Linked DNA regions of Homo sapiens. The protein of the gene in region 2 interacts with the protein of the main gene of each other region in a biochemical or structural test. Each region holds a gene or a part of one and is shown on either strand. Other genes may lie near its edges.

The links. The genes of interacting proteins can lie anywhere in the genome.
Region 1: the proteins of CETN3 (region 2) and TRPV4 interact in a test that uses a peptide from one of them, tested with the Homo sapiens proteins (one large-scale study listed by BioGRID).

Annotation. Positions count from the first base shown.
Region 1 is NC_000012.12:109,782,438-109,785,497, forward strand, and holds the end of TRPV4 (transient receptor potential cation channel subfamily V member 4), read right to left. Parts: intron 2,001-3,060; coding exon 1,879-2,000; intron 1,342-1,878; coding exon 1,184-1,341; 3' UTR 652-1,183; downstream 1-651. UniProt on the Homo sapiens protein: Non-selective calcium permeant cation channel involved in osmotic sensitivity and mechanosensitivity. Activation by exposure to hypotonicity within the physiological range exhibits an outward rectification.
Region 2 is NC_000005.10:90,399,722-90,403,376, reverse strand, and holds part of CETN3 (centrin-3), read left to right. Parts: intron 1-3,655. UniProt on the Homo sapiens protein: Plays a fundamental role in microtubule-organizing center structure and function. As a component of the TREX-2 complex, involved in the export of mRNAs to the cytoplasm through the nuclear pores.

The DNA of each region.
Region 1 (3,060 bases), on a different chromosome or scaffold from region 2:
AGGAGCACCATGACCCCCACCCATCCCAGCTCCACAAGCACTGCCAATCGCCCCTGCCACCATGGTCCTCACCACAGCGACCCGCATGCACACCCAGCACCCTGCTGACACTCCAGGCTCACCCACTGCCACGCCTGCTCCGTGCTGCCTGGCAACCATCCTCCCGCCTAGCAGGACAGCCCTCCCAGTATAATTGTCCCCTGATGAGCACCAGAGTCCCCGCACCTGCACTGTCAACCCCTGGCCAGCGTTACTCTCCCCTGCCCAAATGTACTGTCTCCATGGGGATCATTATCCCCCAGCCAGCACTACTGTCACCCCCACCAGCATCACTCTCGCCCTGCCAACATGACTCTCCCTGGCCAGCATTATTACCCCCACCAGCATCACTCTGCTCTCCTCCCTCCACCCCCACCTTCCCCACAGCCACACCAACCTCAGCCACCTCTCAGGCCACCACCACCACCATCACAACCACCCAGTCCAGCCCCCAACCACCAACACTCTAAATGCCTCCCGGTCAGGACTTCTGCCCTCACTCTCACCCCTGCCCCTGGCTCCCCCCAGGCATTTCCTAGCTCTCCCATCTCCCTCGCTGCAGTCTCATGCCTGTTACCATCCCTCCCACCCCTGCCATCATCCTGCCATCTCCACCGTCAATGAATAAACATTTATTGAGCACCGGCAAATCCCAGACACTACAGAACACACAGAAGGCATGGCCCCACGCCGAGGGCCCCAGCCCCTTGCAAAGCTGCCACGCTGCCAAAAATGGTGGCGCATGCAGCTCAGGCGCAGGCTGAGGCTGGGGCTTGGCCGGGCAGTGCACTTGGAACGGGGTCCTAAGGCCTCTGCCAGGTTCCAGCTGGGGCAGGGGTCACGTCGCTTCCTGAGAGCAGAGCAAATAAATAATGGAGAGGCAGGGGCTGGGGCCTGAGGTGGAGGGGCTCTGGCGTTGGCTTATGTGACTCCATAGGAGCAAGACAGGTGGCCGGGAGCCCCCACCCCAGGGTGGGGAGGCAGAGCCAGGGGACCACAGGGTCCTGGGGCCTCCCTGGCACCTCCACTGGTCCCTCGCCTCTGGGGCCAAAGCAGGGTGTGGGGGGACACCCCAGAAGGCACTGCTGAAATGCGGCTGGACTAGAAATGAGTGGGCAGAGAAGCTGGGGCTGGGCTGCAGTCCCTAGAGCGGGGCGTCATCAGTCCTCCACTTGCGGGGGTAACCCTGCTGGTGGCCATCGCAGCGGGGGTTCCCCATGCTGTCCAGAGGCACCACCACCTCGTCCGGGTTCGAGTTCTTGTTCAGTTCCACCACGCGGGGTACCACCGAGGACCAGCGATCTGCACCGAGAGCACATCAGAGGGAGGGGTGGGGGTTGGTGGAGAGAGAGCGTGCGTATATTGAGTGCCTACTGTGTACTGGGCACTCCACAGTGTTCTGAAGGGGGGATGTGACTATGCTCATTTTACAGAGGTGGAAACTGGGGCTCAAGAGAGGTCAAGGTGCCTCCCCAGGAGAGAATGGAGGAACCAGGATTCAAGCCTGGAGCCGAATGCCCTGAGTGCCTGTGTCCTCTCCAGCTGCGTCTCGCGTGCTCATGGCTTACTGGACAAACAGGAAGGTTTTCTCCACACAGGGATGGCTGAGGAGCTCGTCCTCCCTCCCCAGGCCAGCTTATGTCAACAGTAGGGAGGGCCAGGATGAAGCCACGTAGGTGAGGTGCCCCAGGCATTCACAAGCAGCAGAGGAAGCTCAGGGGCACACTCTCTCATTCTGTAGACACGGACACTGAGTCCCGGAAAGAAGCAGGACTGCTCAAAGCAAATTCGTGATGAGAATGGACTGGGGCTCCCCTCCGCACCCGCCCCTCCACTCACCCCTGCGGAGGCGGCCCACGGTATGCGAGAAGCCATAATACTGGTAGGTCTCATTCTTGCCCGGGTCCTCGTTGATGATGCCCAAGTTCTGGTTCCAGTGAGACCAGTTCACCTCATCCACCCTGGCAGGGCCCAAGCAGAGGGTCATGGGGAACCCCTCAGAGACGCTCTCCATGCCACCATCCCCAGCACACCCTCCTATTTTTTTATTATGGTAACATATACATAACAAGGCTGGGCGTGGTGGCTCATGCCTGCAATCCCAGCACTTTGGGAGGCCGAGGTGGGTGGGTCATTTGAGGTCAGGAGTTCGAGACCAGCCTGGCCAACATGGTGAAACCCCACCTCTACTAAAAATTAAAAAAAATTAAAAAAAAAATTAGCGGGGCATGGTGGCGGGTGCCTATAGTCCCAGTGACCCGAGAGGCTGAGGCAGGAAAATCACTTGAACCTGGGAGGCAGTTGCAGTGAGCCGAGATCACGCCACTGCACTCCAACCTGGGGGACAAAGCAAGACTCCATCTCAAAAAAAAAAAAAAAAAGACGTGTGTGTGTGTGTGTGTGTGTGTGTGTATACACACACAAAAAATTTGCCATCTTAATCATTTTTGAGTATACAATTCAGTGGCATTAAGCACATCCACATTGTGTGACCATCACAGCTATCTATTTCCAAAATTCTTCCATTCCCCCAAGCAGAAATTATTTTTTTTAACCTTCTTTTGAGACAGGGTCTCACTCCATTGCCCAGGCTAGGGTGCAGTGGCACGATCACAGCTCACTGCAACCTTGACCTCCCAGGCTCAAGTGATCCGCCCACTTCAGCCCCCCATGTAGCTGGGATTACAGGGATATGCCACCACACCTGGCTAATTTTTTAAAAACGTTTTGTAGAGATGGGGTTTCACTATGTTGGTCTTGAACTCCTGGGCTCAAGCAATCCTCTTGCCTCGCTTCCCAAAGTGTTGGTATTACAGTCACCACGCCTGGCCCAGATAATATTTCACTGTACACATAGCCCACATTTTGTTTATCCACTCATTTTTTTATATATTATCTTTTTTTTTTACATATTATCTTTAATTTTTTATCCTATCTATTCATTTTTGTTTGTTTGTTTTAAGGCAGAGTCTTGCTCTGTCCGCCAGACTGGAGTGCAGTAGTGCAATCTCGGCTCACTGC
Region 2 (3,655 bases):
GAGTACCAGGTGTCAAATAAAAATGTATTACTGTTTGGGAATCATTCAGGAACTATGTATTACCCCTTTTGTTGATTATTTTTAACTAATCACTGACCACAGATTAATATGTTTTATACTTTGGGACAGATGATTCTAAATCATAACATTTGAGTCCTAGTTTTATGAACTACCCAAGGACACTGTTCCACAGATATATCTGGATGAAGTTTGGCAGTTAACTATTATAGACTCTTCCTAGTACTGGAAAAAAGCTTTAAAATATATTTAATTTAAGTTTAGAGTCAAGACAGCCTGAGGCTAGTGAGTAACATAGATATTTTAGGAATTAGTGTCTTTAAGACTAACATAAGTCAAACGTTTGTACACTATTTTTGACATGTACTACTTATTATTGCTGATTGAGATTGTAATACTGTATTATTGTCTTCATTTTGCTTATTTAACACTGAATTTTTTGGTATTAGGTACTGTACTGGGGTTGGGAAGAAGACTTAATTAAAAGTTACTAAAAGGTTCTTCTTTCAGGGAGTTTACAATGTAAATATAGGTGACAACAGGCTATAGTACTATGTGGTAAATTGTAATTTTGTCTAGGACAGAAGTCAGCAACTATAGCCTTTGGACCAAATTCAGCTGCTGCTTGTACACCACCACACCCCTTCTTTTATGCAGCTTTTGTGCTACTATGGCAGAGTGAGTAGTTAGAGACTTTATGGCCCTCTACAAAGCCTAAAATATTTACTATTGGCCTTTTACAGGAAAGATTTGTTAATCCCTGATCTAGAGGAATTGAAGTCTTTGCAGAGGAGATTTTAAATTTAGGCCTTTGGAAATGTGAGTAAGATTTCATTCCAAGATTGCCAGGAAGAGTAGAGAAAAAGCATTCTAGGCTTAGAAAGCAGCAACAACAAAGAATGGTACTAGACGGATAGCATGTTTGGGAAACTAGGTAGTGTTCTGGGCTAGACATAGGGAAATGACTGGAAACATAGGATTGGGCCAGATTGGTAAAGTCTTGCAAAACATGAAGATTTTGAATTCTAGTCAGCAGAGATCATTCACAATTTTTAAGGGAAGGGGATATGATATGTTTGAGAAAGAAAACTGATGAGAGTATTATTGATGATGAGTTGGAAGGAAGAGAGACTGCAGACAGAAAATACTATTTTTTTCGCTGAGGATGGCGAGGGTGAAAAGAAAATACATTTAAGAATAAAAAAGAGGCTGGGCTTGGTGGCTCATGCCTGTAATCCCAGCACTTTGGGAGGTCAAGGCGGGAGGATTGCTCGCTCACAGGAGTTTGAGACCAGCTGGGGCAACAAAGTGAGATCCTGTCTCTACAAAAAAATTTTAAAAAATTAGCCAGACATGATGGCACATGCCTGTAGTCCCAGCTACTTTGGAGGTTGAGGTGGGAAGATTGCTTGAGCCCAGGAGTTGAGGCTGCAGTAAGCTGGGATCACGCCATTGCACTCCAGCCTGGGCAACAGAGCGAGACCTTGTTTTAAAACAATAAATAAATTAGAAAAAAAACAGTATTCTCAGTACTATAGGACCTGATTAAGTTTGTGGGACTGAAAATGATTTATGCTTTTCAAATATGGAATCTAGCTGTAAATGTTGCTGTTATCTTTTGGTTGGGGTAGGGGAGGCAGCTGCAGTTACTATGGTGGTAGTGGAATGAGTTTGGAGTCCAACATGTCTAACTGGTATGTTTGGATAGAAATTTCCGAAAGACATTGAGAAATACAGTTAAAGCTGTATTTCTAGCATTACCTATAATAATTTTTAATTTACTTTTGATGTGATGTTTTTGGATTTGCCGTATTCTTAAGTGATTTTTACACATTAAAGGTCTAAGAAAGTATTTTGATGAAGTACATTTCTGATAGTATGTGTAATTAAATCATTTGAAAATACAGTTGCATGGACAGAAATTTGGAGTTTTGTGAAATAAATGAAACCCACCTTAACTGCCTCTATATCAGTTTACTAATATTTTCATTGAAAATAAATATATTCCTTATAATTAAATTCTACTTTGTGGAACAAGAATAGAACCTGAAGGCATGGAGGAGAGTCATTATAAAGTTATATATTAGGTAATGTTTTTGCTGTCCAAAATGATGAGCATTTATAATTCCCAAGAAAAGCTGCATTTTAAGGAAGAATATTGATAAAAGAATATATAGACACATAGCTCTGAAATAACTAACACAATTAAAGTACCAGTGGGATAAGAATTTATACATCTTGGAGCCCCATCTGTTCCCCAATCACCCTGTTGCTTCTTTAAGTACATTAATACTTTCAGCAAGCTGCTTTTTTGGTTCACCTGTCATGTAAATTATTTAATTGGTGAAGAAAATTTCTTAACACTTTTTTTCCTTGTCCTGCTTTTTTGTTGGGACTAAATTCAAAATAAGTTGAGTATGTGCCATAGAGTTAAGTGTGGTATTTTATTTTGGTGTTATGGCTGTAGATATGCCAGCTTCTTTTTGACTGAATATTTATGAGCTTTGATGATTTGCATACTTACAGTAATATACTTCAATTAGTTACTTGGAAGCCTTTTTGGATAAAATTAATGGATAAAAGGAAACTATTGAAAATATGTGTAGATGATATAATAGTCATTTGAATAGGTGATTATTGAACCAAATACGGGTGAAACAGCAGCAAAACAACAGCTTGTTGGAGACTTCGATTGTATTTTTTTCATTCTGGGTTCCTTAAACATTCCAGTATTTTCCATCTATAAGCAGTTGCTTTTTTTTTTTTTTTTAATGATTCTGTAACCTTCAACAGGACCGAGTTATTTTTAATAGCATAGTAAAGGCCATAAATACCTTTTCTTGTAGTGGCAGATAGTGTATATAATTACTTCAGAGATACTTATTTAGATACTGTTAGAATTTTATTTAGTAACTTACCAATTTTTATGCCATAGATTTTTATTTTAATTTTTATTGTGGCTATTGATTAAAGACTGGTAAAATTGAAAATACTTAAGCTTATTACTATGTTATTACATGTGATTATATTTAGTGTATTAAAATACACAATTACCATTGAGGTTTGAAACTACATTTATTTTTAGTTAGTTGTCTGAGAGTGATTTATCCAAACAAAATGGGTAAGCTTTAAGGAGACCTTCTTTGCAGAGGTTTTTTTTGGGTGGGCTTTCCTGCTATAGTCAGATTTGATCCTATTTACTACTTTGTAAATTTTGGAAAACCAAGAGGTTCTTCTAATCACAAAGGTATTAGTGGAATTTTCAAATGCTGTCTGAGATTGTGCCTGTGTCTGCGATGGCAGTACTTTTTGTCTCTTGCAGTTTTTCTTGTTTTGAAGTTGGATTAAATTTGAGGAAGAATCAGTGTTAGTATGACGTTTAGTCAGCAAGCAGCTTTTATTTAGTTAGCTCCAATTATTTTGTTGGTATGTCTCTCCACAGGTAGATGACACACTCCTTGTGTGCTTGATGTCAGTGGAGCCTAGTACAATTCTTGATAATAGTAGATCTTAAATAAATATGGTATAAATGTAGTCCTTTTTATTTTGCCTCTGTGTGATATAGTTTTGCTTACTTTTATAATAAGACAAGTTGCTCATGATAAAAAAGGTTAACATTTAAAATATGGATTTGATT